Linked DNA regions of Homo sapiens: region 1 is linked to region 2. Evidence: fine-mapped expression QTL. Tissue or cell type: whole blood. Region 2 holds a variant in brackets; the other region holds the start of a gene. All regions are shown on one strand. Distances are from middle to middle. Region 1 holds the start of LINC01151 (long intergenic non-protein coding RNA 1151). Region 2 holds the start of LOC124902081 (small nucleolar RNA U13).

What was found. PIP is the estimated chance that this variant, and not a neighbour inherited with it, causes the effect.
Region 1: it holds the start of LINC01151, and the variant in region 2 is fine-mapped to the expression of LINC01151 in whole blood (TOPMed, PIP 0.99).

What each region holds. Positions count from the first base shown.
Region 1 is chr8:122,685,495-122,702,056 of GRCh38, reverse strand. LINC01151 (long intergenic non-protein coding RNA 1151) reads left to right here and starts at 7,951. Exons shown (of 4, transcript NR_126348.1): 1 at 7,951-8,176; 2 at 8,576-8,684. LOC107986904 (a long non-coding RNA gene) reads left to right here. Exons shown (of 3, transcript XR_001745738.3): 3 at 1,645-2,224. RefSeq lists enhancers at 7,135-7,635, 7,456-8,655, 11,285-12,484.
Region 2 is chr8:122,663,913-122,680,474 of GRCh38, reverse strand. LINC01151 (long intergenic non-protein coding RNA 1151) reads left to right here. Exons shown (of 4, transcript NR_126348.1): 3 at 9,087-9,206; 4 at 9,975-10,090. LOC124902081 (small nucleolar RNA U13) reads right to left here and starts at 9,184; the gene lies at 9,081-9,184. RefSeq lists a silencer at 2,691-2,985. The variant C/T (reference allele first, on the strand shown) is at 8,419.

The DNA.
Region 1 (16,562 bases), 22 kb before region 2:
CTCTTTTGGACAGTTAGGAAGTCGAAGCACTGAGATTTGAACCAGGCTCTTCTAAGTCCAGAATCTGTGCTCTTAATCACTAAGGAACATATTTTTTTATTAGCATTATTTCATAGACTAGCAGGACAATCAGTGGCAAAAAAAATTGTCCATGGAAACTGAGAACACAGCTTAAAGATTGCCAGGTTTGGGCGTGGTGGCTCACACCTTTAATTCCAGTGTTTTGGGAGGCTGAGGCGGGAGGATTGCTTGAGGCTAGGAGTTCAAGAGCAGCCTGGGCAACAGGGTGAGACCTCCATCTTTACAACAAAAAAAAAATAGCCAAGTGTGATGGTGTGGACCTGTGGTCCTAGCTACTCAGGAGGTGGAGGTGGGAGGATTTTGTGAGCCCAAGTGTTCAAGGTTATAGTGAGCTATGGTTGCACTCTAGCCTGGGTGACAGAGAAAGACCCTGTCTCTAAAGAAAAATAAAAAAAAAAAGAGTGCCAGTTTGATTCACCAACTCCTTCATGGTGCTTCCCCCAAACAGAGGACCACAGAAAGAACCTTCTCCCTCCATAACATGGAAATTCCTACACTAGCTCTCTGAAAACTTAGAGCCAAGCTTTCAGTAGGTGGTTCCTGGTTGGAGTAACTTGAAGGCTGGGGTGGGAAACTAAAATACACCTCCCCACAACTGTTCCCTTCCCTGCTCAAGAGTAAATGGTCTTGACAAGCCCTTCTTTAAAACTGTGTTACTTGGTTAGACATCAAAACACTTTGCCTAGTAAATGCTTGAAAAAGGTTTGCATTGCATTTGGTTTGGTGGAAGGGCAAAGTAGACTTTGGGAGTGAGAAAAGTCAGGAGGGACAAATGAGTGAGTTGTATCAGGAACTAGCATGGCATTCTTAAGAGTCATGCGGGCTGGGTGCAGTGGCTCACGCCTGTAATCCCAGCATTTTGGGAAGCCGAGGTGGGCAGATCACGAGGTCAAGAGATAGAGACCATCCTGGCCAACATGGTGAAACCCCGTCTCTACTAAAAATACAAAAATTAGCCAGGTGTGGTGGCACATGCCTGTAATCCCAGCTACTCAGGAGGCTGAGGCAGGAGAATCGCTTGAACCCAGGAAGCGGAGCTTGCAGTGAGCCGAGATTGTGCCATTGCACTACAGTCTGGGCGACAGAGTGAGATTCTGTCTCAAAAAAAAAAAAAGAGTCATGGGTTGAAGCGTCCCACTGCAGTTGGGAACCTTTATGGGAAAGTGGGGTCTCTGATTAGACAGGTGGAATGTGGCCAGAGTCTTGAATGGGGGCTGGGCAGTGTAGGTTTACCTTATAGGGCAATCATTCTTGAAGCCGAACATTAGAATAAACTGGCAAGAGTTAAGAAATATGAATGCAACCCTGTATTCATCTACTGAGGCTGCCATAACAAAATACCACAGAATCGGTGACTTAAGCAACAGAAATTAATTTTCTAACAATGCTGGAGGCTAGAGATCAAAGTGTTGGCAGTGTTGGTTTCTCCTGAGGCCTCTTTCCTTGATTTGTAGATGGCCATCCTCTCCCTGTGTCTTCAGATGGTCTTTCCTTTGTTACTGTCCATGTCTGAATATTCTTTTCTTATAAGCCTTCCCCTATTGCCCCAATTCTTCCCATTAGGAACCTCACCAGCACCACAGGACCCACCACCACCATCACAAGCCTTATCATCACCCCTGCCTTCTCTATCCCTGCAGCAGTCCGGGGATAGACACAGGGAGAGGACAGCCATCTTACCAGCCGAGGAAGGAAGCCTCAGAGAAACCAACACTGCCAACACTCGGATCTCTGGCCTCCAGGATTGTGACCGCACCCACCACAGTTATCACAGGGGCAGCTATAATGGCAGCAGCTGCAGCAGCAGTGAGCCCCATGCCAATAGAGAGACATAGGCAGTCACACCCATTGTAGAACTGATCACTTAGGCCAAGTTATTAATTTTGTACTGGAGGAAACTGAAGTCCAGAGAGGTCAACTGACTTATTCAAGCCTATGGAGCTCTTAAATAGAAAACTAAGTCCAAAGATCCTATTTTTTGGCCTCACATTTTCTTTCTTTCTACTGGTCCACATGACTTCATCCCAGCCCATCAGCCCTGGAGGCTGGGCTAAGGACAGCCCCACTATTTGAGCCTGCTCTTCCTTCCTATCAGGAGCAAACCATCATGAAAATCAGCCCCATTAAACTCTGATTGTCTGTGTCTGGGCCATGTGTTTCCCTTGTCAAGGGGTTGAAATGCTTTGATTTAAGGGTAGGCAGGATACTTCTTTTAATGTTTTTAGTTAGGACTTGGTCAGCAAACAGGAACAAACCTGATCAAATGTGGCATAAGCAAACTGCAAACTCGGCTCATGTAACAAGACCAAGGCAGCCCTGGCTGCAGGCATAGCAAGATTCAGGGCTCACATGATGCAATCACGTGTCTCTCCTTTCTGCTTGCTTTGCAATCTGTTGACTCCAGTCTCAGACTCCATTTGGTAGCGAGATGGCAGCTTCAGTTTGTGAATTCTCTGGTGCAGCAGGAAAGAGGTAGCCTGTTTCTCAATAACATAAACGAAAGTCATGGAATTAATTAATGCAAAAATATTTATTGAGGTCCTAGTATGCACCAGACATTCTTCTACATGCTCGGGATACTGAAGTGGACAGAGAGAAGAGGTTCCTGTCATCATGGAGCTTACTTGAGTCTTCTTGGGCTCTGACATGACTGTTTTTGGCCATGTGTAATCTGTGAGCCAATCACTGTAGCCACGAGTACGCGATGTGCTGGGTCATGTGCCCCACTTAAAGAATGCAAGCCTCAGGCCAGGCGTGGTGGCTCACGCCTGTAATCCCAGCATTTTGGGAAGCCGAGGTAGGCGGATTGCCTGAGGTCAGGAGTTTGAGACCAGACTGGCCAACATGGTGAAACCCTGTCTCTACTAAAAATACAAACATTAGCCAGGCATGGTGCTGGGTGCCTGTGATCCCAGCTACTCAGGAGGCTGAGGCAGAAGAATCGCTTGAATCCAGGAGGCGGATGTTGCAGTGAACCAAGACGATGCCACTGCGCTTCAGCCTGGGCATTCTTTCAAAAACAGAATGCAGGTCTCTTTTTGAGTGCCAGGACTATGTCATAGTTATGTTTGTGATGTGTCCACAAAGCATAACCCAAGGGCTGTCCATAATAAGCACATGAGAAGTGACATCAAACGAGTGAACAACTGAGTAAATAAACCACAGAGAGAGAAAGTTCATGAAAGGCAAATGTGTAAAAACACACGAAAAGGGGACAAATCCAAGTAAATCGAACAACGAAATGCTAGCTCTCAGTTGCCAATCCAAAAAGAGACATAATATTCACTATAGATGTCTTGCTAAAAATATTTGCCCAGTGTGTTTCATATCAGGCCAAGAAAATCCTGCTCATTATTCAGAGAAACATTAGACACAAAATCTGAAGTTGCAGTTCATTTCAGAGTTGTCCCTGGGGGGTGTCAACAAACCGGGGTCACTCTGGACCTCACACTTTGAGGAGCAAGTGAAAGAAGAAATGAAGACAGCTCACAGCTGGCAGCTAAAATATGTCGATGTCATTATGTAAATATCTGCCACCCACAGCCCTCCATGGTCTCTCTTGCAGCCTGCTGTGGGCACCTGGGAAACACTTCTCCCTGTTGTCTGGTGTTCTTGGACATAGCCTCTTAGTTCCTTTGATGTTCTGCCCTTGATGTTCATTTTATGCAGCTTTCAACTGGTAAAAAAGTTTAAGGCAAGGAAAAAGTCTGGAAGAAAATTTATAGCTCCTAAATTGTTAACATGTAAAAGAGCCATTCGTTGGTCCTAAATCCTAAAAGCGTGGCTCTGTATATCTTGTATAAAACCTATGTGGGTTGGCACTTGGAGGGATGTATGCAATTTTAGTCATTACACTGCTTAAGGAAGGACCTATAAAGGACACGTAGAAAGAGGCAAACTAAATTATTAAGAGGAACCTACATTTGAGCATGAGCTCAAAGGAGGTGGACTCCAGCATGGAGAGACCAAAGCTCTAAGAAGAAATAAGTACATGCTATGAATTCATGAAGGGCATAGAAAAGATGCCTGTAAACAAACTTATTCACCAAATTTCAATAGAATCAAATAAGAGGGGCAACCATGGGGTTTCAAAAGGGTCAAAATTGTACAAATATTAAGTGTAAGTGGCTTTAAACGATGGTGGCAAACATGAAATTTAAACTAATTTTTATGTTTTAGAGACACAGTCTTGGACTTAATAAAAAGAGCTTTAAAAGGTATATTGGGGACAATTGGTAAAATTTACAGGTAAGTCACATATTAAATGGCACCATTTAACCGAATAAATGTTAGCTTTCTTAGGTATGATGGTGGTGTGCTTATTTAGGAGAATGTCCATATTCATTCAAGATGCACGGTGAAATGTTGGGGGAAACATGGCTGGATTTTGCAGCTGACTTTCAAATGAATTAGAAAAAACATCTATAAATATATGAGAGAATGACAGAGCAATTGTAGCACAATACAGTCATGTGCTGCATAATGACATTTCAGTTAACAATGGATTGCCTATCTCGACGGTGGTCTCATAAGATTATAATGGAGCAGAAAAGTTTCTATTGTCCAGTATTATGCTATGCTATGCTATGCTATGCTATGCTATGCTATGCTATGCTATGCTATACCATACCATACTATACTATACTATACTTTATTTATTTATTTATTTTTTGGAGACAAAATTTCGCTCTTGTTGCCCAGGCACGATTCTGGCTCACTGCAACCTTCAACTCCCCGGTTCAAGCGATTCTTCTGCCTCAGCTTCCAGAGTAGCTGAGATTATAGGCGTGCACCACCACACCCAGCTAATTTTTGTGTTTTTAGTAGAGACGGGGTTTCACCATGTTGGCCAGGCTTGTCTCGTTTATCTATTTATTTTTGAGACAGGGTCTTTCTCTGTTGCCCAGTCTGGAGTGCAGTGGCATGATCGTGACTCACTGTAACCTCAAACTCCTGGGCTCAAGGAATCCTCCCGTCTCAGCCTCCCAAGTAGCTGGGACTTCAGGTGTGTACCATCACACTTGGCTAATTAAAATGATTTTTTTTTTGTACAGACAGGGGTCTTACTATGTTGCTAGGCTCATCTTGAACTCCAGGCCTCAAATAATCCTCCCACCTCAGCTTCTCAGAGTCCTAGAATTAGCACTCTGAGTACCTAGCATGGAATTTATTACCTTTAGAAGTAGCACTGTTTGAAAATATAAAGTCCTTTAAGAATTTGGATATGTTCATGAGTGATGGGTCAAGAGTGATGGGTCAGATATGTTCGTGAGTGATGGGTCAGAGACTTGAAGATGCTTTTGATACTGCCCTACCCACAGAGAACAATCACACCCACCCTTGACGCATCTATTGGAGACCGAGTGTTAGACAAGAGTCCAGATGGCTCACAGGCAGGTCTAGGACAGGTCTCAGCAATGTTTTGAGAATAAAACAAGGAAGATCTGCTGAATGTTTAAGTTTTTTTTTTTTGAGAGGGATAGCCTTTAATATCATAAATGGATAATTAAGGGAATAAATGAAGGAATGAGTAGATGATAATGAGTAGGAGGCTTTTGGTAACTTTTTTTTTTTTTTTTTTTGAGACGGAGTCTCGCTCTGTCGCCAGGCTGGAGTGCAGTGGCGTGATCTCGGCTCACTGCAACCTCCACCTCCCGGGTTCAAGCGATTCTCCTGCCTCAGCCTCCTGAGTAGCTGGGACTACAGGCACGTGCCACCACACCCAGCTAATTTTTGTATTTTTGGTAGAAACGGGGTTTCACCATGTTGGCCCGGATGGTCTCTATCTCTTGACCTTGTGATCTGCCCATCTTGGCCTCCCAAAGTGCTGGGATTACAGGCGTGAGCCACTGCGTCCGGCTGTAACTTTTTATTTTTAAATAGTTATAGACTCACAGAAAGAGGCCATAAGTACAGGGTCACATATACCCTCCCCTCAGCCTCCCCGAGCAGTGACATCTTATAAAGCTGTGGTAAAATAGCAAAACCAGGGAGTTGGCACTGGTAGTGTTGAACTATACTGCAGATTTTATTCTGTTCTCAGCATTTTTTAAGCTTGCATTTGTGTGTATGTAATGTTATCCCATGTATAGATTCATGTAACCACCATCCCAATCAAGATACAGAACTGTTCCATCACAGTAAAAGAATTCCATTCAGGCCGGGCGCGGTGGCTCATGCCTAAAATCCCAGCACTTTGGGAGGCCGAGGTGGGTGGACCATTTGAGGTCAGGAGTTTGAGACCAGCTTGGCTAACATGGTGAGACCCCGTCTCTACTAAAAATACAAAAATTAGCCAGGTGTGGTGGCACACACCTGTAAATCCCAGCTACTCCAGAGACTGAGGTAGGAGAATTGCCTGAACTGGGGAGGCAGAAGTTGCAGTGAGCCTAGACTATGCCACCACACTCCAGCATGGGTGACAGAGTGAGACTGTGTCTTAAAAAAAAAAAAAAAAAGAATTCCATTCTATCTGTTTGTATTCCTCCCCCCTCATCCTCCTGCTCCCTGGCAACCACTAATCTGTGCTCTTTCTGTCATCGTTTCGAGAATGTTGGATAAGTGGAAACAGATCCGAAAGGTATGTAACCTTCTGAGACTGGCTTTTTTCACTAAGCATAATGCCTGAGGTCCATCCAGGTTGTTGCATGTACCAAGAGTTCATTTGCTTTTGTTGCTAAGTAGTATTCCATTGTATGGAGGTACCACAGTTTGTTCCATCCTTTGCCTATTGGACATTTGCTTTTTTTTCCCTCGAGTATTTTGCCATTATGAATACAGCCACTACGAATATTTATATGCAGGTTTTTGTGTAAATATAAGTTTTGATTTCTCTGGGATAAATGCCAGGAGTATGACCGTTGGGTCATATGGTAAGTGTTTAATTTTGTAAGAAACTGCCAAACTGTTTTCCATGGTGGCTGTACCATTTTACATGTCCACAGGCAATGTATAAGAGATCTAGTTTCTCTGCATCCTTACCAGCATTTGATATTATCACTATTTAAAATTTTAGCTATTCTAAGTGGTGTGTAGGCATATATTTTTGTGGTTTTAATTTGCAGTTTCCTAATGACTAATGATATTGAACAACTTTTCTTGCTTATTTGCCATCTGCCTATCCTTTTTGGTGAAATATCAGTTCATGTCTTTCAGCCATGTTTAATTTTTTTTTACTGTTGAGTTTTGAAAGTTCTTTATATATTCTAGAAGATGCAAAATGTTTGTCAGATATTGGCTTGCAAATATTTTCTCCCAGTCTGCAGGTTGTCTTTTCACCCTCTAAACAGAGTCTTTCACAGCATGAAACAAATGGAGGCTTTAAATGGCCATTTCAGAAAAGCCTGACCTAGCCTTGAGAGCGTCGGACACGGTCACTCCACCGGTTCCCACTCACGAGGGCAGATCATGGGTTTAAATCCCATTTGGGTGTGCTAATTCAGCTTCACAATAGCTCACCCACCATGGGCTTAACGCTATTCAGTGGCCACAGGTGAGTGTGTTTCAGGACATCACAAAAAGATAAGCTGAGAAAGAGTGGCCCACCGCTGCCAGAACAGCTTGAGGGCAAGTCCCCACTGACCCGGAAAGTGAGTCAGTTGCATCACCCCCTTAGAAACCTGGAAAATGCTTCATCATCGGTGTAGAGCGAGAGCCAGCATTCAAAACGCCAGGGGGCTTATCAGGCCATTTCACCACAACATAAAGTAACAGGCAGACTTGAATTCATCTGGCACTGTTGACCAACACAGAGAGCCAAAACACACACGGAATTCAAAATCAGAAATAATCCCAAGTTTGAGTCATCCAATGTGCTTGTCTACATTGATTGCACTCACCAGATAAAAGTCCAATGCACTCTGTGGGGTGAAACAGCCTCTGTCTCAGGTTGGGAGTTGCTGCCATGGAGACCACAAGAGTGGAGATTTTCTGACACACAGAAAGGAATGGATTACAGCTCCTTCTTATGTAAATTTCCATGGAGGGGAAAAAAGATTAAAAGGAAAATAATTCTGCTTTAGTCGTTTTCCTTTAAGGTGATAAGATCCTTTGATTCCATCGTGGAGAAGAAGGCAACAGCTGTTTGTCACAAATGGTAAGACATTTTATTTGACATTTTGCAGAAACTCGATCTTTAGCTGTAATTTTGACCTAATGGTTACAGTGAGTTGTTTTTAAGAGAAAGATAGATTTTCTTGAAGCCAATGGGCCTCAGACATGAAGAATGAAGAACTAATTGTACTAACCTCAGTTTCTGAAGTGGACAGGGAAATCTTACCTTCCTGCCTCTCTATGTTCAGGCTGAGTGGGTCAGAAGGAGAGTGTATTAGGTAAGAAAATTTATCAGTATTATTTAGTGAACACTGGATTTATCCTTTTGCATTCTGGCTGTAGTACCCAACTTCCACATGGCAATGCACCCTCACCTCAGCCCTCCGCCCACGTGGTCCCCTTGCTGAGCACTTTAATGAATGACTGCATCTCATTTTCACAGCTATTTGATGCACCTGCTATTATTACTCTTATTACCATTTTCCAGTGGGAAGCTGCTTCTTGGGCAGGGTGGATTTCCATCTGCGTCTCCTTTTCGGTGTTGAAAGCTGGTAAGTGAGGACACCAGGATTGGAACCTGGGTAGTCTGAGTCCAGAATCTCTATTTTCAAGTCTTCCTGCTCTCTGCTTCTGGCAAGTTTGATGTCCACTTTTGATCTTCACCTACATTCCAGCATAATAGCTACTTTTGGTTGTTTTCTCAGCAGCACAAGAGAAGTGTGGCGAGATTTTTAGGTGAGTCATCTAGAGAAGTTAATCTTATTTTGGGAATTCTACTGGCAGCTTCAGGTGGGGAAAATTTTGTTATTTTCTATCCTCCTCTAGGTTCTAAAAGGGAAGAAAGATGGTGAGCGTAGAAAGATGTGACTGTATTCACTATTCACCCTTTGTCGGGTGGTGAGTAAGCAGCTTGCAAAAGCAATGAAGTTTGGAACAATCCAGAGAACCAAACTTTCAGCTGCCAGAGATGGCACCTGGTATCCTGGGTACATCTGCCTGTAGGGCCCAGAAAGAGCTGGAAGCCAAGTGCATGGATCAGGTCTGTAGGAAGGTGGGAGAGCCAGGAATCGAGTGTCAGGGGGCATTTATTACCCATGGAAGCAGGTTTTTGTCAATTTTGTTCACTGCTGGATCACTAACACCTGGACTGGTGCCTGGCCAGGTGGTGGCTTCATAATCATTTGTTGAGTGAATCAATGAATGAATGAATGAACAGCTGTAGCAGATGCTAGCAGGGCTTCCTATTTCTTCCATCACCATAAAGGTGAAAGACATCATAAACGGGAATTTAGACAATCCTCAGAAATTTTCAACTGCCATGTATCTTGACTTGATGCTTCTAGTAGTTATATTTATTTGTAATTCAATCTTTCTTTTTAAATAGTTGACCAAGTGTGGTGGCTCACGTAGTCCCAGCACTTTGGGAGGCTGAGGCAGGAGGATCACTTGAGCCCAGGAATTTGAGACCAGCTTGGGCAACATAGTGAGACCTCATCTCTTAAAAAAAAAAATTAGCTGGGTGTGGTAGTGCACACCTGTGGTCCCAGCTACTTTAGAGGCTGAGGTAGAGGATTGCTTGAGCCTGGGAAGTTGGGGCTGTAGTGAGCTTTGATTGCATCACTGCACTCCAGCCTGGGTGACAGAGCAAGACCCTGTCTCTAAAAAATTAAATAAATAATAAAAAAATTAAAAAGTAACTCCCTTTTCTTTATTTTCAGGCTTCCTTCCCACCTGCTAATTCAAACACTTTACAACCAAAAATATCTTACCTTGATCCTGTTTCTTTCTCTATAACCTCTCTATTTCTGTTTCTTTCAACCAAATTTCTTAGGTCATCTATAATTTTGTTTCTACTTTTTCTATGCATGCCTCAATCCATTGCCAACTCCTCAACCTGCCCCAAGTGCCCACAACTCCACCAAAAGTAATTCTAACATTTTACCAATCCAATACATCACAGTTTTTTATAAAAAACTTAAGAAATATACTTTAGTTGAATTTGAAAGAGTTGCCCACTTGTGTTAAATATTTCTTTCCTTGTGTCTGGGATATCATTTGATTCTGATTCTATTCCTAATTCTCTGACCACCCTTTCTTCGTAGATTTCTCTTCCTTTGTTCAGCCTTTCACATCCTTGGAGTTCCATCCTCTGGTGATTGTTTGTCCTGTTCCATACATTCTCCTTATATGAGCATTGTGTTTTAGCTTATGAATGGTCACATGACCTAGCCAGGCCAATCAGAGTCTTCCATGAGACTTTTGTTTATTTATTTATTTATTAATTTATTTATTCTTCCACATGCCATCTCATTTAACCTGGGACTTTTGTCAGAATTATCAGGAAAGACATTCTTCTTTCTTGGCAACAGTTGACTTTTAGGATCACAGTAGTCTGGGGCTGCCAGGGACCATGTTCTCCATTAGCAGAGAGCCTGGCTGAGAACAAAGTCAAAACATGGGAAAGCAGGATGGAGAGACATATTGTCATCATGTTACCCCTGGATCTAGCCATATTTGAGGCTTAAACTTATCCTGGACTCTAAAGTTATGGAACTAACATATCTTTTTAAATAATTTAAGCAGGTTTGAGTAAGATTTCTGACACTTGCAACCAACAGTCCTGAAAAAGATACCTCTACTCAGTCTTCCTATTTCCAATCTCATAACTCCAACCCGATGCTGCCAGAAGGAATGATATGAGATACAGAACAGGTAGTGCCATTGCTCTGTGTAAGATCTTTCAATGGCTCTCCGGAGCCTATTCAGGAGCGTGAACTCAAAAGCCTTAAGGGAGCAGGCTGATGGCATAACTGAGGGAAACAGTCCAGGTGTAAGATAATAGAAAGGGGGAGACCAAGTGTTCAGCCCTGGAGTATGCCCTGCCTCCAGTCATTCATACTCAGAATGCAAACCCCAAGTGCCTGCCAATCAGAACATGTCTGGAGGTTGGATTTGGCCTCCAGCCTCCAAGTTTGCAAGCTTTGGCTTATGTTGCAAGTTTAAGCTCCGGTAGACAGCCCTGGAGGCCTTTGTGACCAGGCCTCTGACACTTCACAATATTCGTTTCCTGTCATTAGATGCTGTAGTGACACTAAGTTGGTGCCCACATCGTGTTCTGTTACAGTCCTATGCTTTTGCTCATGTTGGCCCTTTACCTGGGACCTTGGCCCACTCCATCCTTTCTATCATGATCTTCATCTCACTAAATCCTATTTGTTCTTTAATATTCATCTCAGGTGTCACCAGCTCCAGGAAGTGTCCTCTTGATGAGACAGGTGCCCCTCCTCCATGCTCTCATGGCCTGCTTTATGCCTCTCTGTCATTGCCCCTGACATATACGGCAGACCATGTTGATTACTCACCTACAACCATTCCTCCTCCTGCTTACTTGCTGGCAGAATTTGCCTCTCTCAACCGAAGCTGAAAACACCTGATATTCTCTTTCCCAACCTGCCTTATAGCTAAAGTCTGGGGATGTAATTTAATTCTTCTCAAAGAGATAAGATGGGAAATCTGCCAAGGAATTCTTGGGGAAGTTTCCTCCATGACTACAAAGGAGTGATCTTTTTCATGTCTGCCATTAGACGTAGTTTTGTGAGGATGTGATGGTTGGAGCTACAGCAGCCACCTTGAAGCTATGAGGGGAAAGCCAAGAGAATCATAGAGGTGGTGAACTGGATCCCTGCCATTCCTGAACTGCCGAACCAACCTGGGAACATTCTCCCCCAGATTTTTGGATATGTGAGATATAGTAATAACCCCTGATGCCTAAGTCACATTTTGTGTGTGTGTGTGGGCGGGGAGAGGGGGCGGTATTCTCTTACTTGCAGGCAAACACATTCTAAATGATTCAGCATTCAGCAATGTTCACATTGCCTGTGCACTTTCTCTTCTATTATTCTGTAAGTTATTTGTGGGGATAGATGATCTTATAATCTCTGGTCTAGCATAGAGTCAGAAGTCAGTAAATGTTCACGGAAATACTTTTTTTTTGCATAATTTTTCCACTGAGAGCTCCAGTAAAGGGTGAGTGCCAGATAACATCTGTCCCATTTTGGAGATAGCCCCTGAGTGTTGGGGAGTGGAAAATATGTCAGGCAATGTTATATGACTAACACCCCAGGATTTATGGGAATGAAGAATCTGATACAAGTATTACATCATCTCAGTGGAATCGACTAGTGCTACTCAAATTGTTTACTCAGACTTTTCTTTATGTGAAAGCTTACTACCAAGCCCAGCGTGTATGTCAGATAAAAGTGTGGTGCATTGGTTAGAGAACGCAAGGGATGATGAGGTGCTTACAGTCCCCCTCATCCATGCTGGGCCTGTCTCCTTTCTTGGTGTGATCCTTGCAGCCCCTTTTCTGACCTCCTCCCCTGGGTCAGACAATTAATGCTGCTTTTATGATCTTGAATCCATCAAACCCCTTGGTCTTCCCTTGGTCCTCAGCTCTTTTATTAAAAGTTGGAGGTCACCATTAGCCTTTTGGAGGTCTTGAGATTCCAATTTTGTTGGGATATTTAGAGCACTGCACCAGTTTTGGCTAAAAATGGTGCAGCAAATCAAAAAGGCAAAGCCATTTTGAAGAATCTATTTGGCAGTCCCAGTCCTTCAAGTATATACATTTAATTTTATGGTTTGTTACACAAATTTGTTGAATTTTTCATACCAAAGGAAGCCTTTGTATTTTGGAAAGCTCTGTAAACTAAGAGCAGACATTCTTATATGGCATTTGGGCTCTTTTGTTCTTTTTTTTTTTTGAGACAGGGTCTTGCTCTGTCATCCAGGGTAGAGTGCAGTGGTGCTAACATGGCTCACTGCAGCCTTCACCTCCTGGCTCAAGCGGTCCTCCCACCTCAGCCTCCAGAGTAGCTGGGACTACAGGTGTGCACCACCACACCCAGCTAATTAAAAAAAAATTTTTTTTGGAGATGGGGGGTGGGTCTCACTCTGTTGCTCAGGCTGGTCTCAAATTCTTAGCTTCTCCCACCTTGGCCTCCCCAAATGCTGGGATTACAGGCATGAGTCACTGCGCCTGACCTCTTTTGTTCTTAATAAAGGGGAAAAAAATCACTTGAGTTTCCAATATTGACTCACAGAGAAGACATTCCTCTTTCACGTTTCTACACACTTGTTAACATAAGTCTGAGTCTTCTCAGATCTTCTGACTCTGAAATTTAGGTAGTGGAATCAGATCTTCACATGATCTAGATCTCAGAGTTTGAAAGAACAGTGCTCTCAGGGTGGAGGGTTTGTGCGGGGCGGGGTGAAGGATGTTATGGGGATAGCATCACACCTAGATCACTAATGATCACATGCAAGAGAAGGCCAGTCTCTCTCTGTCTCTGTCTCTGTTTTCTAAAGAGGAGGAGATTATATTGTATTTTCAGTTTTTCATGGCCACTGGCTTCCCTTTAGCTTCAGGAAAGTAAATTTTAGTCTCTCAGCCTGGATGAATTGCAACCCTGACCAACCAACAACCTGATATACTCAAGCTCTTGGCTGAATTGCCCTCACTTTTGTGAATCCTGTCTCTTCCCCGAGGCAGCGGCGTTCCTGAAGCTGTCTCAACCGCAGTCTGTTCTTTCTCCAAGATGTTTCCCAAGATGAAAAGATGCTGTCGTTTTTCTTTTTGATTAACAATACAACTCTGAGATCTTTACACTATTTTCTTCATGTTATAACTCCTTTGCAGCCCATAAAACATCCCTCTACCTGCCCATTCATCCAACAGATATTTGCTTTTTATTTGCCAGATATTGTTCTAGGAGCTGAGGATACTGTAGGGAACAAGCCAGGCACACCCCTGTCAGCATGGAGTTTACATTTTAGCTTGGGGACAATAACAAACAAATAAATACTAAATATAATGTCAGATAGTGAAAGCACTATAAAGGAAAATTTTGGTGGCCATGAGAATGAGCCTCTGGGATCTCATGGTGCAGAGTGTGAAAGTGACTGAGAACCTCGGCAGCTGCATTTGGGAATGCACCACTGTGTTTGCACTGGGACTGCTTCCCCTCAATGTCCCAGTGTGGCAGGGACACTGAGGCAGACTTGGGATTTCTTGATGGGAAACTTTGGCTTGAGTACTCTCTGAAGGGCTTGCTGGAATTTTTGTAGAAGTGTATTCTAGTCTGAAATCCTTCCTCTCTCCCACCCTCCTTTCCTTCCCTCTCTCCTTCACTTACAGGCAGATCTTCACTGCAGTTTGACAGCTCTCCCAACCAGTCCCAGTTCACTCCCTTCATTTTCTCATATGTGTTTCCTCTAATAAAAGTTTACATTTTTCTTTTTTTTTTTTTGAGATGGAGTTTCACTCTGCCACCCAGGCTGGAGTGCAGTGTCATGATCTCGGTTCACTGAAGCCTCTGCCTCCTGGGTTCAAGAGATTCTCCTGCCTCAGCCTCCCAAGTAGCTGGGACTACAGGCACCTGCCACCATGCCTGGCTAATTTTTTGTGTTTTTAATAGAGACAGGGTTTCACCATGTTGACCAGGCTGGTCTCGAACTCCTGATGTCAGGTGATCTGCCCGCCTTGGCCTCCCAAAGTGCTGAGATTACAGGTGTGAGCCACTGCACCCAGCAAGGTTTACATTTCTTATTCCATTCTCAAGCTGACACAAGACTAATGCAGCCTGCAAGAATAGAGAGTGATGTGGAGTGGGGGCTACTTTAGATAAGTGGCCAGGGAAGGTGACATTGTCTAGAGACTTGATTGGAATGAGGAAATGATCAGAGCAAACCCCTGGGGGAGGAGCGTTTAAGTAGAGGGAAGAAGGAAGAGCATTCATCCACTCAGAGACTTGGGTTTCTGTGGGTTCCCTTCAAAACTGCTGAGGGGCGGCAGTGGGGCTGGGTCCCCTCCAAACTTGCTCCCACCATCTCCCTTCCATTTGGAGGGCTCTGTCTTTAACCGCTTTGCATATTTGGCTTTACCTAAGATTTCATGTGAACAAAGAGTTCCAGGTTTAAAATAAAAACACTCTGGAAATCACTGCCCTGGAGGCACTCTGCGACCTCTGCCCTGTTTTATGACTCTGTCAGTTCACTGGCCATGCAGAGAATGGGCAGTGGAAGAAATTACCTCTATTTGGAAGCCTCATTGTTCCACCGAGATACTGGATTAGTGTGAGGCAGGTGTAGATAAGGGGAATTACAGTAACTGATTAAAGGACTTGATGCATGGACTCTGGTAGAGAGGGTGGGGCAGGATCATTTGGGGGCTTTCACGCTAAGCTCAGAAGCCCTGCAGTTGGACAGCAGCCAGAGGAACTGGCATATATCAAATAGACAGAAATGGACAAAGGATGGCTGTGAGCACTAAGGTTTGGGAGGGAGTGGGAGGTAAAGGGTAGCCTTCCGTGTGAACCGGAGAGGAGTTTCCAGAGGCAGTGGAGGATAACAGCTGTGCTCAAGGACTTTGGTTTCAAAGTGCAAAACATTAATATTGCCCAGAAGAAAAATGATAGAATTCACCTGTTACTGGTGATTGGTAATCGAATGTATAAAAATTTCCTGGCACTTCGTTAGTGACTTCTTTGGTGGTAAAACTTTATCTCTCCCTCCCCCACCCCCCAAGTTTTCGGAAGAAAGAGACTGGCAGCCATAATGCAAAGACTGACCTGGATGTGAGAGGCTTTTTATTCTGTCCTTTTAGGCTGGGTAGGGAACATCAGCATTGCTGATAGGGAAGTGAATGTATAACACACTGAAATGAAGGTGTGTTCAGCCAGTGAACTCAGGGAATCCTTGAGGTATGTTTTAAAATCAAGTTTGTTTATAAATGAGAGGTTCGACTCCAAAGCCTTAAACATACAAGAGTCTGTTGTCTCATATAAAATATTTTGGAGATGGGTAGTAAGTACAGGGCTGCTAAGGCAGCTCCATGCATTATCAGAGATCCAAGAACCTTACGCTTTCTGCTCCACCATGTGTACTTTCCATCCTCAAGGTCCAAAATGGCTGCTAAAATTCCTGCCACTACATCTGGATCCCAGGCAGCAGGAAGGAGAAATGGAAGAAGACCTGTCCTGTCCCTGAGACAATGCCATTCAGCATGTTCCATACAATATCTCTGCTTATTGATCACTGGCCAGAACTTGACAGAGATGAACAATGAGGCTTTTTTGTTCTGCTTTTTATGTTCTGCTACAGACAAAAAGAAAAAAAAGCGTATGTATTTATAGTCTACTTGATTTTAATAAAGGATTGAGTGCAGCCTAAGGCATGTGCATGTTATCCTGTAGGTAACAGGGGCCACAAATGGGTTGTGGCTAATGGAACATGGCTGAAGGGTCTGTGCCAGTTCTGAGCCTCAGGAGGCACTGCTGTTTCTTCTTGCCCTTCTGGGACTTTTGCCATGGGAAGAACCCACAGTCTTGGGGTCTTTTTCAGCCTGGGTTCCAGAATGAGATGCATTCTGA
Region 2 (16,562 bases):
AATATAAATAATTATGAATGAGATACTTTGCATTTTTTGATATTGAGTGTTCAAAATCTGGTATGTATTTTATACTTATGGCACATCTCAATCTGAACTCTAAATTTTCATAGAAAATATTTGATCTGTATTTCAATTTCATAAAATTTACAATTGAAACAGTAGAGTCATCTCTCCGCATTGTTCTAAACATAAAGTTTTTTCAATAACTGAATTGTCTATTTAAAAACTTACATTTACCTTAATTAAAGCAAAATTTTAAAAAGGCAGTTCCTCAGTTACACCGGTTACTTTTTGAGGGTCAAACACAGGCTCTAGAAGGTGCAGAGGGAGCTCTGGCAGAACATGACTGAATCAGGTGTGTTAGGCTGTTCTTACACCACTATAAAATACCTGAGATTGGCTTTTTTTGTTTTGTTTTGTTTTGTTTTTTGTTTTTGTTTTTTTTCTGAGACAGAGTCTCGCTCTGTCACATAGGCTGGAGTTCAGTGGCATGATCTTGGCTCACTGCAACCTCTGCCTCCCAGGTTCAAATGATCCTCGTGCCTCAGCCTCCCGAGTAGCTGGAATTACAGGTGTGCACCACTGTGCCAAGCTAATTTTTGTATTTTTAGTAGAGACCGGGTTTTGCCATGATGGTCAGGCTGGTCTCGAACTCCTGACCTCAAGTGATCCACCTGCCTCGGCCTCCCAAAGTGCTAGGACTACAGGCGCGAGCCACGGTGCCCATACAAGGCTGGGTAACTTATAAAGGAAAGAGGTTTAATTCGCTCGCGGTTCTGCAGGCTGTTTAGGAAGCATGGTGCCTGCATCTTCTTGGCTTCCGGGAGGCCTCGGGAAGCTTTCAATCATGGTGGAAGGCAAAGGGGGAGCAGGCATCTCACATAGCAGGAGCGGCAGCAAGAGACAGTGTATATTGGGGGGAGTGCCACACCCTCGAACAACCAGATCTTATTGAGAACTCACTCATTATTGTCCTTGGTGCAAGGACAGCACCAAGCCTTGAGGGATCCACCCGCCGTGATCCATTCACCTTCCACCAGCTCCCACCTCCAACACTGGGGATTGCATTTCAACATGAGATTTAGACGGGACACATATCATCAGGGGAGAAAGCCCAATGGCCCTCAGGGGTGGGGGCAGCTTCGCTCATTGTTTTGGTGTGTCAAAATACACGTCTCACTTATTTTCCTCAAAGTTTCAGGGATTGAAGGCGGGTCGCAGTCATGGTGGAGGCTGGGCTAGCTTCCAGCACGGTCTTCAGTGGGATTTCACGTCTCTGCATTTTCAGCAGCACGGGGAAGTTTGGGCAGCATTGATTTTGTCAGGGAGACTGGGAGGACTGGTACTTTGGGGAGAGTCTCCTAGGTCCAGGGACCCCAGAGAATGCCTGCAGGGTGCGGAGGCCCCTTGAGCGGACAAGGGGAACAGCTGCTCCCCCTCCTGGGAGCCAGAGGAACAACAGTCCTGCCGGGCTGCGGTGATCATGGCAGGGCTGAAGGCAGCCTGTTCCAGGGTGGAGGCGGGTGGACAAAGGGCCGAGGAGAAGCTGCATCTTTTTTGAATTTCCAAGTCTCAGAACACAGAGGCCCTTGACTTTGGAAGTACAATGACATGAGTACAGAAAAGAATCTTAGAGCGCAAGATTATTTAATGCAGTTTGGCAATTTTCAAGTACAAAACAAAAATTATTTATTTTTCTCTAGATTTTGTTAGGAATCTGCAATCACCTTCAGAAAGACCTCACATGTGAAAATATACATTTTCAGAAATGACACATCAAATCCTCCAGTCACTTACTCTATAAGCTGAAATTATGTATATAGTACATAGTACAACAATGTACATAGTAAAAAATTCAAAGCACACCGTAAGTTATACAATGGAAAGTAAACATCCCCTCTTCCTTCCTTGGACATCTCTTTAAAATGTTCAGAGCAACTGGCAGGTAGTAGCTGTTCAATAAATGCTAGTTTGCTACATTAGAATGTTGTAGGTGGACCAAAAAGCTAACAGCAACATAAATATTCGATTAAACTGCAAACCAGTAGGGCCATGTGTGAGAAAAGGAGATGTGGCAGCCTGGTGGAGCGATGCTGCTTTGGAATTTGGTGCTTTTGAATGCTGTTGTTTTTGAATTTTGCTTTAAAAGTTATTTAATCTACACCCTCTACCAAACACTTAGAGAAGGCTCTCCGACTGTGCTCATCTGGAAGCTTCTGGAAACAGGGTGCCCAGGGTAGTAGGGCAGGCAGGGACATTGTTTTTCAGGGCCTATGGCGGGCAAGTGGTGAAAGGGCTGGTGTTTGATGCAACAGACATGCCCCAGGAAAGAGAAAGCTATGAGCTGTGTTCTGTCTTTGGCAGCTGGGTTACATCACTTTAGGCCAATTTAATCCAACCAACATTCAGGCTAGTGGATGGGATAAGAAGAGACAGTTTTTATCTTCAAAGTGTTTGCATCTGAGGGCAAGAAATGGCAACAAATCCACCTACTATAAAGTAATGCAGAGAATGATGGTCACTGATGGCAAATTTCCCTGGAGTCCAAAGGAAGGGTCAGCAAACAATGGCCCACAGGCCAAATATGGCCACCACCTATTTGTTTGTTTGTTTGTTTGTTTAATAGACTTTATTTTTAGAGGAGTTTTAGGTTCACAGCAACACTGAGTGGGAGGTTTGGGCAGCACTGATTTTGCCGGGGAGACTGGGAGGACTGGTACTCTGGGGAGAGTCTCCTAGGTCCAGGGACCCCAGAGAATGCCTGCAGCGTGCGGAGGCCCCTTGAGCGGACGGAGGGAACAGCTGCTCCCCCTCCTGGGAGCCAGAGGAACATAAATAAATGGGAGATTTCCCATTTATTCCTTGCCCTGACACATGCACAGCCTCCCCCATTATCAACTTCACCCACCAATAGCCACATTTGTTACAGCTGATGATTGGCACATCATTATCACTCATGGAGTCTATAGTTTACATTCTGGATCATTCATGGTGTACATTCTATGGGTTTGGACAAATGTATACTGATGCGTATCCACCATTGTGGTTTCATCAGAGTGGTTTCACTGCCCTAAAAATCCTGTGTACTCTGCCTCTTCACCCCTTTCTCCCCCACCAACCCCTGGCAACCACTGATCTTTTTACTGTCTCCATAGTTTTGCCTTTTCTTGAGGGTCATGTAGCTGGAATCATACAGTATGTAGTCTTTTCACACTGGCTTCTTTATTTTGTAATATGCATTTATGTTTCCTCCGCGTCTTTTCATGGTTTGATAGCTCATTTCTTTTTAGTGCTAAATACTATTCCATTGTCTGGATAGACCAGTTTATTTATTCATTCACCTACTGAAGGGCATCTTGGTTGCTTCCAAGTGTTGGCAATTATGAATAAAGCTGCTCTAAACATCCATGTGCAGGTTTTTGTGTGGACATAATTTTTCAACGGTTTTGGGTAAATACCAAAGAGAGCAATTGCTGGATCATATGGCAAGAGTATGTTTAGTGTTGTAAGAAACGGCCAAGCTGTCTTCCAAAGTGGCTGTACCATGTTGCATTTCAACCAGCCATGAATGAGAGTTCCTGTTGCTCCACATCCCTGCCAGCATTTGGTGTTGTCAGTGGCCTGGATTACAGCCTGTTTGTTTTTGTAAATAAAGTTTTATTGGAATACAGCCATGCCCATTTGTTTATGTATTATCTATCACTGCTTTCATGCTACAACAGCAGAGTTGGCTGGTTATGACAGAGACAGAACAGCCATGAAAAAAAAGCCTAAACTATTTACCACCTGACTCTTTTCAGAAAAGGCCAATGCCTGGTCTATTGGAACAGCTATTTTCAATGGAGAAGCCGTGTAGGTGTTGGAGCGGCTCCTTGGAATGGAGAGAGTAGAAAGGGGAGCGATTCCAGACACAGGAAACAGACTGAGCAAGGATGGGGTGGCCTGGCCAGGTTGGGGAAATGCGGCGGTGTCAGAGACTCAGCTCTTTAGGCCTTTCCTCTGCTCTAAGCTGGAAGGAATTGAATCAATTTTTCCACAGCTTGTAGAAAAGACAGGATGAATGATGTCTGTAAATGCTTGAAGCAAGATATGAGAAAAGCATCCCTTCACCCAAAATGCTATTTCTATTTTATTGTTAAATGGATGCTAATTTTTCTGTCTTCCTTTTCTCTTCCCAGCCCAGTTTGCCAATTTCATCCTTCCTATTGTTTTGCCTTAACTAAACAAAACATACCAGACATACCAGCACAAACTGTAATGTGTTTACTTACAGAAACATATTTTCATTCTTTTTCAAATAGGTGGTTCACTCCTAGGTCCAAAATTCAAAAGGTTTAAAGAGCGTACGGAGAAACATTGCCCTCCTATTTTGTAGCCTTCCTGTTCTTCACCCTATAGGCAGCCAAAAGTACCAGTCTCTTGCATTGTATATCCTTCTAGAGATATTTTCTGCAGGTACAAATATTGGTGCAGATACTATTTTTCTTTCTTTTATCACAAATGATTATTTTATATGTGTATATATATATCCTATCTATATATCTCATATATATACGGGCACCATTTTGCAATTAGCTTTTTTCCTCTTAGTAACGGTTTTAGAAGTGTTTCACATTAATGCATCCAGAGCTTCCTCATTCTCTTTTTATTCCTTTCTAGTGCTTCATCCTGTAGATGTATCCTATTATGTTTAAGTGTTTTAGTGGCAAATCAGGGCTGTTGCTCTCTCCCCCTTTCTTGCCAGCAACAAGCCCTGGATAGTATTTATTGCTGGGTTCAGCATATGGGGTCAATAGCAGTGGCTGGGTTCATGATGCTGATGGCTTTGAAACAGCTCTTTTGTGGCCCTTCGCAGGTGAAGCGAGAGAGAGAAGAGAGCTAGATTCCAGCAATCCTGCTGGCAGGGTTCTTCTGCCTGCTTTGGCTGCTGGGGTGGGGTTTGGCTGCCTAGGTGCGATCGCCCTGTCCCTGTGATTTCCCTTCCTCAGGTTGCTGGTGGGAAAAGGACCTGTTGGAAGTTGAAGACATCAAGATTATTCTGATGTAGTGAGATCAGGGAGGCTCTATGGTGGTGGTGGCATTTGGCAGGTGTCTTAGCCATGGCTTTTTGATTGAAAGTTACAAACACCCATCTCCAGCTAGCTTAAGCAAAAAAGGAGAATTTATGGGTTTATGCAGGCAAACAAAGACATTTAGGACTTGAGCAGATACCACCAGTTACTTACACAATGTGTATTTCCTCTGTTGTCTCAGTATGCCAGTTAAAAATACTCAGCTGTTTGGACTTCCTTGCAGTGAGGGGTGGCCATGTGACACTTCTGAACACTGAGATGTAAGCAGAAGGATACAGGTTGGGTTTTCTGGGAATATATTATTTTTCTGATGAAAAGGGATACCCTCAATGGGCACATGCTTTCTGCCCTTCCAGTGTGGAATGTGGATATAACCCCAGAGATGTAGCAATCATTTTGGAGCATGAGGAGATTCATGTGATGGGGATGGCGGAGGAAAACGGTCTTTGATGTCATCATGAAGCCAGAGCAGCAGAGCTTGTCCACTGGCCTTTTAAACATCTGCTACCCAAGAAAAACAAACTCCTTTGGCTGAGCTCTGGAATTGGGCTTTTGCTGCTCACAGTGGAGCAGAGGCCTTGCCCTAATTCAGGGCAACTGAATTCTGGCATTTGTATAGTGTCAATTTTCTCCATCTCTTTCCAGTTTATTCTCTCAGAATCCTCCATGAGGCAAGGGACATGGCATCAGCAGCTCTGGTATCTATCTTGTCAGCTTCCAATCCAGGGGAAAGAGAAAGCTAGCTATTCCTTCAATTCCAAAATGGAGGGGAAAACTCCAGGGAAGACATCTGATTAGTCTGTCTTGAAGGATCTTCCTTGAACCAACCTCTGTGGATCAGAGGATGGGGTAATATGATCAACCACATTACCAGATCAGCCTACCTGGCAGATGGGGTAGGGAGCAGTTTCCTAAAGGAGGAGATGGAATATTTTACCAGGAGTGGGAATAGGCAGGCAGGCAGATGAAAACAACAGATGGTCCTTCAGCAGGCGCTGAAGGTTTAGATGAGTGGAGAGGAAAGGCAAGGTGATTTCAGGGGGATGGTCACCTCCTCCAAGAAGCCTTTTCGGACAGCCTGACTTAGCCACTTATCTCTCCACCCCATCCACTCTTGCTTCCCTCATGGTAGTACATGGCACTGTCTCTTCCTGGCAGCTTTGAAGGTGGGCACTTCTTCTGGTTGATCCTGTATCCCTTCCTCTCATTACTAGTATGTGGCAGCCACTCATTGTTTAGAGCAGTGAGTGAAGGGACAGGAGGAACAAAGACACTGAGGAAGAAAGTCACAAGAAAGACTTTGGTTTGCTTGGAATCTTGAGTGTATGATTAAAAACCTAGCAAATCCCAAGATTCTTAAGGTGGGTTAGGGTTAGATTAGAGTGGGACCCTGAATGTCAGGCTACGAAGTTTGTGTGATGGACAGTAGGGAGCCATTGAACTCTTTTGAGCAGGGGAGTGGCAAGGTCAGGGCTGCTGCACTCCTGTGCCTTGTTCCTTTGACCTCTGGCTGCTGTCTTTCTTTTCCATTCTCTGGCTTCTCCATGATTCTTCTTGGTCTGGTTCTTCATCTGTCTTGAACACCTTTAGTCCATGTTTCCCACCCCTGCTTTTTTTCTCCCCAAACTTCTTCACCAATCAGTTCTGGGCTGATTCTGTTCTGTGTGCCGGGGAGAGGACAGTTTACCCTGGCTGGTGCCAAGTGGGTGTCCTTCCCAGGAAGGTTCCAGTTGAGCAGCTCTTGGCTGCCCTCTTCTGGGCACTGGTGGATATAACCACCTGCTCTTCTGGAACTGGCTAGAAAGACTCCGGTCGCAACCTTGCCTCATGATGCGACTTCTGTCTTTTTGTATCTGCCCACCAGATCCCCTTTAATTACTTAAAATCAGTAAGTTTTTTTTGAGTGCCTACCAAGTGTTTAGATTTGTCTGGCGATAGCTACATATAGAATGCTTCCGACTTCCCACTGATCTAGATATTGTTCATCGTGGGATATAAGCCTTGCATAAATGTCAGAGCACTTCTTTTGCTAATTTACATGTCTGTCCTATTTATTTGACTGAACTGAGGTCACTTTAGTTTTGAAAGCCGTTGAAGAGGTAATGTGCTTGAACTTTATAAGTATGTAAGGCTTACATATTTATATTCCCCGGAGAGCATCTTCCCCCATAAATCACACCCTGATGCTTTCATCAAAGTACAGAAGTCTGTGCACATATTTTTATTATTCACAATGGAATTAAGGCAATGCCCTAATTAATGATTTTGCTAAGAGGCAATTGCTGTTTCCAGGGAACTCGGACCTGTAACATGGATTCGAAGCCATTCCTGGGGTTTTTTGAGCTCATAAAATGACAGATTCACATCCCAACAGGACATCTGACTGGATTCTTGGCCTCACTGTGGGTGATAAAAATACTTTATTCTGAACAAGTTGCTTTCCTCAGGCCAAAGGCTAATTGCTGTCCCGTTCTGGTGAGCAGGCTGTCACTCAAACGCCTAGGCTCTGAAACCTGTAATCTCTTCACGGTGCCAAGACGACATCTTCCTTTCCTGGATCCGCCTTTGGAATTCCCCTATTCCTCCATTCATTCAAATCCAGCCCATTTTTTCAAGACCTATTTCTAATCTCTTTTCTCTGAGATCCCTTCCCTGCATCCTGACTTTTCTTTGTTCTAAACAATAACACTTCTGTAGTCTGCGGCATCGACTTAGCAAAAGTCATGTATTATCTTGCAACATCTTTTACTTTTTAAATAAAACCTTATTTATACATTTTGTACTGTCATTTAACTTTACAAAAGTTTATGTTTCATGTCTTTAATTGGATCATAAAATCCATAATGCCAGAAACCATATCTTACACTTGGTTGTTTACCCCACAGAATGTTGAATATTTATTGCTATGTGTTCAATAGACGAGCAGCAAATGCTCTTGATTGGTGGGTTGTTGTATCATTTGCCTATCTTAGCTCTAATTAGTATACTTGCCTGAGAAATTATTTACAAAAGACAGATTGGCCTAGGCCATCATTAACACTTTCCTGGAATATTTTCATGCATTTAGATGCTTTGCAAAATGTATTGCCCAAATGGCTCCGTGTGTCTATGTGTGCACATGACAAAGAGAAGCCAAATTAAAATCATCCTTTTAATTTATCATTGATGCATGATTATTTTAAAATTTAGTTTTAATTTTGATTAACTTTATACACACACATGATTTTCAGGGTTAAATAATTTTAGAAGGCATAGTGAAAAATAATAGACTCTTCTCTTGACCCAGCATTTCCTGCTTCCTAGAATCAACACATTCAGCTCTTGCAGCTGGTTATTTTGGTAT[C/T]GCCTCCATGTCACTGGTATATGCTTATAGTGCTCCTTCTTTTTTGCCTAATGCTTTAAGCATTAACTGTTAGCCTCTCACTATTTTAGCCCTCTTTTACCATTTCTACCATGCCCCATCATGCACGGTTCCTGAACCCCCGGACCCCCATGCTCTCATTATCCCACTACTGTTATTTCATAATTTTGCTTAGGTTAATATTCAGTGTGTATATTTTCCTGTCCCTATAAATACTCTTCACAGCTGAAATGTGCTTACTTTTATTTTCTTGCACAATCTTTAGGTTTTCCTGGAGTTAATAGTTATATTGTTTTTTCTTCCTTTGTTTTGTTTTCTATCACTAATTCACTCCAAACTTTCTCCTCGGTTGTTTAAATTTCCTCTCAATACACTCACTCACATCCGGTATTCTAACAAAGCCATCTTTCGATCATCTTTCCTGTACCCTACAGAGCTGCTCCAGCCTGGACTAGTTTATTTCTAGGCTGAGTACATGGCTATACTTGGATCTCCCTTTGCCTTTATCTCTGGGATTTCCTTTGCTCTTTCTTGGATTGACGTTCTCATTTCCCAGACTCCATGTCTTCCTCTTTCTTGCTTTGCCTCATAATTTTGGACTTACCTAGTAGCTTCTTCTTCTTTTTTTTTTTTTTCCTTTTTCACATCAGATGGGAAATGTGCCAACGTCACAACAAGGTTTGAGGGAGGCACATCTCATGCTCGGACATGAACACCCGATCATCATGCTTATGAACTACAAAAGGATCTCCAGTATGGGCTCACGGCAGGTAATTGTTTTGAGACTTATGTCTGAAATGTTTGTATCCCACCCAAATATTTAATTGTTAACTTTGATAGGTGTAGAATTCTAGGCTAGAAATAATTTTTTTCTACAGAATTCTAAAGTCATTGTTACATTATCTTTTTGCTTCTACTGGGGCTGTTGAGAAATTCACAGTCATTTTGGTATTTTGAGCAATGATTTTTACCTTTTTCTGAAAAGTTTTAAAATTCCCTCTTTTATGTCTATTGTTCTGAAAGTTTAAGATGATGGAACTTAGTGTGAGTTTATTTTTATCTATTGTACTGAATATTTACTGTACCTTTTAAGTCTAGAAACTCATGCCCTTCAGTACTGATAAATTTCTTGGATTATTTCTTGTGTCTTTTTTCTTCTATTTTTCAAGTTCTTTTTCTGAAATTTTAGTTACTCAGTTGATGAACTCCTAGAATGATTTTCTATATTTCTTATCTTTTATATCATATCTTCCATCTTTTTGATTTTTCATTCTACTTTCTAAGAGATTTCCCTAAATTTATCTTCTAACTATTTGACTGAAATTTTCATTCTGGCTGTCAAATTTGAATTTATAATTACTATCTTGTTTTACAATTGTTTTCCTTTTGCCAGAATATTGTTTTTATTTAATAAATTACAATAACTTCTCCTATTTGTCTGAGGATGTTGATGATAGTTTCCTTTTGAAGTTTTTATTTTCCTGCAGAGTTTTCTATAAGTTGCTTTTTTTTCCCCCATAATATTTTGGCCTTTACAGTTGGCCCTTGAATAACATGAATTTGAACTGCCTGAGTCTGCTAATATGTGGATTATCTTCTGCTTCTGCACCCTGAGACAGCAAGACCAACCCTTCCTCTTGCTTCTTTTCCTTAGCCTATTCAACGTGAAGATGACTAAGGTAAGGACCTTTGTGACGATCCACTTCCACTCAATAAAAAATACATATTTTTTTCCTCCTTATGATTTTCTTCATAAGATTTTCTTTTCTCTAGCTTACTTTATTGTAAGAATACAATATATAATACATATATGATAAAAAAGTGTTTAGTGATTGTTTATGTTATTGGTAAGTCTTCCAGTCAAGAGTAGGCTATTAGTAGTTAAGTTTTTGGAGAGTCAATTGTATTTTTCAAGTTAGGGAATTTCCTCAGAGTTTTGGTGGTCATTGACTAAGGCTCACATTTTGAAATGAGACGCTTAAAAGCAAATTAGAAACTCAGTGTGTGGGGGTGGAACTTGTTAACTCTGAACTCACTACTTGTAAGGTGATTTGGCCAATCTGCTTCTCCAGGGGTATTCTGTTGTTAGTGCTGCTATATCTTTTCTTGGAGTAGATAGACTTCCTAGAGAGGTGTGCTTCAGTCTCTGGCAAGCAGAGTGTTAAGTCTGGCTTCTTATGCTCTGAGAGCTAAGGTCCTCATACTCAGTGTGTAACCTCTCACTCAATCTTCCTGTGTTCAGTACACTGTCCCTGCCCTCAACAATGCTGTATATGCCCCACTATGCTTTATTCTTTCCAGGAATTAAGCCTTCAGTTGTCTGGGTTGGGGAAGGGGCAGGATGAGGGGCCTGGGGAGGGTCTATCTACTTCTTAAACATACTTCCAGCCAGTCATTGTGTCAACAGACTCAACTTCCCACCTATGTCCAGTGGTACCCTGGGATTCTGCAGTGAAAATCGGGCTTGTTCTTATTGTTAGCTTGGGGTTCAACTTCCTTAGGTCTGTTAAGTGAGTTATCACTGGTTCATCTGCTTCCTAGAGCCCCAGATTTTATTTGTTTATGTTCTTTCTGGTTATCTTTTTCATTGAGGTTTAATGCTTAAAAAAAATTTTCCAGCCGGGCACAGTGGCTCACACCTGTAATCCCAGCACTTTGGGAGGCCAAGGAGGGTGCATCACCTGAAGTCAGGAGTTCGAGAACAGCCTGGTCAACATAGGGAAACCCCATCTCTTCTAAAAATACAAAAATTAGCTAGGCATGATGGCGGGTGCCTGTAATCTCCGCTACTTGAGAAGCTGAGGCGGGAGAATCGCTTGAACCCAGGAGGTGGAGGTTGCAGTGAGCTGAGATCAGGCCAGTGCCCTCCAGCCTGGGTGACAGAGTGAGACTCCATCTCAAAAAAAAAAAAAATTCCTTTGCTGTAATATTTATTGGAATTTCTGGGAGGGAGCAGAAATAATGTTTATGTTCCATCCACCACTTTTAAGTGGAAGTCTATAATATCCTCTTACAGCATTGAACGATTTTATGGTGAGGGTGAGAAGATGTTTTAGCATGTGGCTCAAAGGAAATGGGAACAGCTTTTTCGGAATTGATAATAGATGTAGGAAGTTGGCATGGCTGCCTATCATTCTCTTAGATTAAAGCAGAGATCCTAGGGAAGAATTAGTGAGAAGGATGTCTTTTGAAAGCTTGACCAAAGTTTGGATTCCATTTCATACTTAGAGAAAGAGAATGAGGGATATCTGTATTTAGGAAGTACTGCACTGGTGATTTTGTGGAGACTCTATGCCAAGAACCCAGTTCATATTTCTAGGAGAGGTTGAAAACCGTAGGTCATCAATTCCTAGGCAGGTAGCAGTGCCAGGGCCCCTACAAACTTAACTGTAGTCAGGTTTTGACTTTTACATTGCAACCAACACCCACAGATCATTGATCTCTTTTTCAGGGGGTGGGGTGGGGTAGGGCCTGTAGCCATGGGGTTTATTATGTTAGAATTTGGACTGATGCTTTTGGGTGTAATGAATTGTGACTTGCTGAAATGGTTAGGGAAAAGGTTTATATAAAAGTCTCCTAATTAGCACCACAATGCTGGAAAAGGAGAAGAACAAAATTATATCAAGAGACCATGGACCATTAAAACAATTTTGTTGAAATTCACAACTGCTCTGAACTACTGCTACCACGACCACCACCACCGCTACTACTTATAATGGCAATTATTTATTAAGCACCTGTGAGGCTTCCAGCACCATTCTAAGTAATGGGCATACCTTCCCTCATCTGATTCACATACAAAAATGTATGAAGTATCATTTGCACAGGCAGTCAATAGTTAAGTGAATAACAATAACTAACACTTATTACAAGATTACTATATCCCACTCAATCTTCAAAGTTCTTCATATGCATGACTCATTACAGCCTCATAATAGCTTTACGAAATCAGTTCTTCATACTCACTATTTAATGGATAAAGAATCTGAGCCTCAGAAGGTTAAGGAACTTCTCCAAGGTCAGCTGTGGCAGATTTGGAGATAACCCAGGTTTGTATTACTCTTCCTATTCTACAAATAAGAGGAAGTGCCTGGATTCAAGAGGAGAAAAGCATATACCACATTTTGGGGAAATGGTAATAGAAAAATGAGGTAAAGTCCATCGGAGACACAGTTTTCTCTCTCAGAGTTTGGCCAAAAATTTGCCTGGTGTCTGAAATAGGCTAATGTATCAATAATCCTATGTAATATTTCCATAGTTCTTTGTTGTTTGGAAGGCATACTTGCAGTCGCAATCTGCTTTGGTCCTCACGATAACCCAGGAAAGTAGAAAATTCAGGGACTGCTGTCTCCATTTCACAGACAAGGAAACTGAACTCAAAAATTAAAATAATTTGCCCATATTCGCACAGACAGTAAGTGTGAAAATCTCAGGCATCATTTCTTCATTCATTCATTCAAAACAAATATAATTTTTTGAAGTCTACCATGTACCTGGCAGTGTTAAGAGTTCTGTGAATTTTAATAGTAAGTAAGAAAAAGTTCCTGTCCTTGTGAAATTTATGTTCTAGAAGGAGAGACGAACAACAAATAAAAAAAAATTGTAAAATATATTAATTGGTAGTGATAGGTGCTATTAAGTAAAATAAAGCTGAGGAAGGAGGTAGCAGGTGGCCAGGTGGGAAGAGGGAATGGACTATTTTAAACCAGATATGCAGGAAATCTTCTCAGATGGGCAACATTTGAGCAGGTGTCTGCTGGAAGCGAGGGAGTCAGCCATGCAAGTATCTGGAGGACAAACATCCCAGTCAGAGGGTTCAGCAAATGCAAGATCCCTGATGTTGGAATGAGGTTGGTATATTCAAGAAACAGAGAGAAAGCCAGTGTGGACTTCTCCATGTCAGAAAAGAGAGAGAGGAAGGAAATAAGAGATGTGGTCAGAGTGGTGAGCTAGAACTGAGCCATAAAGGGGTTTATAGACAAGATGAGAAAACTGGATCTTATTCTAAGTTAAGTGGAAGTCTTTGGAGGACTTGGAGTGGGGAAATGACATGATCTAATTTACCCTTGCAAAATATCCCTCTGAATACTATGTCGAGAATTTACTGGGTGGATGTTAGGGAGGGCGGTGACATGGAAGTAAAAAGCCAAGTGGGTAGGTGTATTCATTGGGATGGGCTGAGTAATTCCAAAGGAACAATGTTCCATGTTTTGCAGGTCTGTTCCACATTATCTTCACTCTAGGACCCAAGCTGATAAAGCAGCTCCCTCTGGAGCTATTGATGGTCTCATGGAAGAGACAAAAAAAGATCACAGTGAATCACATTCTGCTTCTGAACTCTTCTGCCTGGAAGTGACAAACATCATTTCCATCACATTTCACTGACCAAAGCAAGTCATGAGTGTAAGCCTAGTATCAGTGGGGTGGGGAAGGAGAAGCAAATTATTGGAAACCACAGGAGGTTATTGCAATAATAAGGCAAAAATGAAGCCAGTGGCTGGGTGCAGTGGCTCATGCCTGTAATCTTAGCACTTTGGGAGGCCAAGGCAGGTGGATCACTTGAGCTTAGGAGTTCAAGACCAGCCTGGGCAACATGGTGAAACCCTGTCTCTACAAAAAATAAAAAAAAAATTAGCCAGGCATGGTGGCATACACCTGTAGTCCCAGCTACTTGCGGGGCTGAGGCAGGAGCATCACTTGAACCCAGGAGCTCAAGGCTGCAGTGAGCTGTGATCTTACCACTGCACTCTAGCCTGGGTGACAGAGTAAGACCTTGTCTCAATAAAAAATAATGAAGCTGGCTTGGTCTAGAGTGGAAACAGTTGAGGTGGTAAAAGGACTTGCTGCTTGAATAAATGTGGGGTATGAGAAACGGAAGAGTTAAGACGGACTCCAGGGTTTTGGTCTGAACACCTTGGTGAAGGATTTGTACCACTTGCTGAGTTGTAGAAGTCTGAGGGAGGTGCAGGGTTAAGGGGAAAAATTAGGAATTCCATTTTGGACATTTCTAATAAGGGAAACAATGGATTTAAAGATAAAATGTGGGAGTCCTCAGCATGTAGACTGACTTTGAAGCCATGGACTGGATGAGATCACATGGAGAATGAGAGCAGAGAGAGGAAACAAGAAGGCTGAAAGTGAGCCTGGGGTCTGTCAGTCTATATAGGTCAGGAGGAAGAGGGGAATCCAGAGAGGGAGAGATGGAAGAGACAGATTGGGAAGAGGGGAAAAAAGAATGTGGGACTGCCTAGAAACCCAGTAAAAAAAAAGTGTTTCATGAAAAGAAGGATCAACAGTGTCAGTTGCTGCTATTAAGTAAGATGAGGATTAAAATCCATTGTTGGACTTGGTCAGATGCAGGCACTAGTGACCTTGACAGGCCATTGGTGACTTTGTTACATGGTGGGGGTAAAAGTCTGATTGAAATGGGTTGAGAAGAGCCCGAATGTTCTTCTGATTCCAAAGTCAATGCCTACCTTGTTTTGCTAAGCTGCATAGAAAGTTCTCGTGTGCAGGATGCAGTCACTGAAAATGTTGTAGAACTGAAGAATTTGTACCTCATTCTTGGAACCACTCAACCTGGAAGAACAACTCCCTACAAACGTGAAGGCAACTACCTGAGCATAACTGGTTCACTGCCTTTTCTTCTGGGAGTGTGTTGAGTAAAATTTGAACAGAAATATCTGTTTTTCCATCCAGGCTCTAGGCAAAGTCTCCTTCAATGATGGGGCATGGTACAAATTTGTTAGCTCCCTTAACTATGAAGACACAAGAAAAGGTTGGAAATTAGGATTAGGAAAAATAGAAGCTTATTGTTTACTGCCCAGCTTCAAGTACGGGAAATAAAACCTTTTTCCAAGAGCAATACATTGGATTAAATGAAGTAATTTTACTTCAGAATGATACTCCAAGGGGCTTTCCCAAGTAGTAAAACAGACAGCAAAAGCTCTGAAATAAAGTGAGAGAAAGGTGGGAAATGGAAAAGAAAATAAACATGCATCTATTACTGGGTGCATTTTTGTTTGGCCTGTAGGGCATTCCTGCTGACAGCCATTTCTGGCTGTGTATGAGATATGCCATGGAGACATGGGAGGACCAGATGGCACTTCTGAGCCTCACCCTCAGGTACTGATTGTATCCAAAATAAGCCAGGTTGGTAAGGCCAGGAAAACAAGACTTGGGGGATATTTTCTATAAACTGGAAAGACTTCCAACATCTTTCAAAGATGGTTATGGTTCTTGTCTCATAATCCTGTGCTCCCAGGCAATCGCAGTATTCCAAATATTTAATAACAAGTAAAGAAAAGGGCTTGAGTAATTGGAAGGAACTCCAGATCAATCAGAATAGAGGCTGACTGTATCCAAAATTTTAGCTAAATACTAGGCTTATTCCCTATGTCTAGTGAAAAGAGCATGGGTTCTACAGTTGGTAAAGGTTGAGTTCAATCTTGAATGCCTCTTAGAATCCTTTATTGCTCTGTGATTTGCTGAGCCTCATTTTCATCATATCTAAATGGAGGGAATACTATATCCTTGTACTATTTTGAAGATAAAATGAAATGTGTTTCAGTTGTCTATTGCTACTATATAACAAATCATCCAGAAAGCAACAATGATTCACCATTGCTTATGATTCAGTGGGTCAAGAATGCAGGCAGGTCTCAGCTGGGCAGTTCTTCTGTTCTGCTTGGTATACGCTAGGAGTCACTCATCCAGCTGTATCCATCTGGCAGCTTGGCTGGGCTGAAAGGTTCAGGAAGACCTCACACACATGTCTCACACCTCACTTCTCCTTTACATGGCATTTCTCCCAACATGGTATCACATCATTCAGGAATCTGAGCTGCTTTATAGCAAGCTGCCTGATATCTTCAAGTTTCACTCCAGAAATGGCACTGTGTCATTTCTGTCATACTGTACAGGACAAGGCAAGTCACAAGGCTAGGCAAGGTCCAAGGGGAATGGAAAGGGATCCTACGTCTTGATAGGTAGAGCATCATATGTGTACAGGGAGGGAAGGAATCACTGGTGACCATTGTTGGAAACTATCTACCCAAAATAAACCTTTGTGGCTCCAAATATTTTCAGACTAGCATCCAAATTCTTTGGCTTGGCATTCAAGGCCT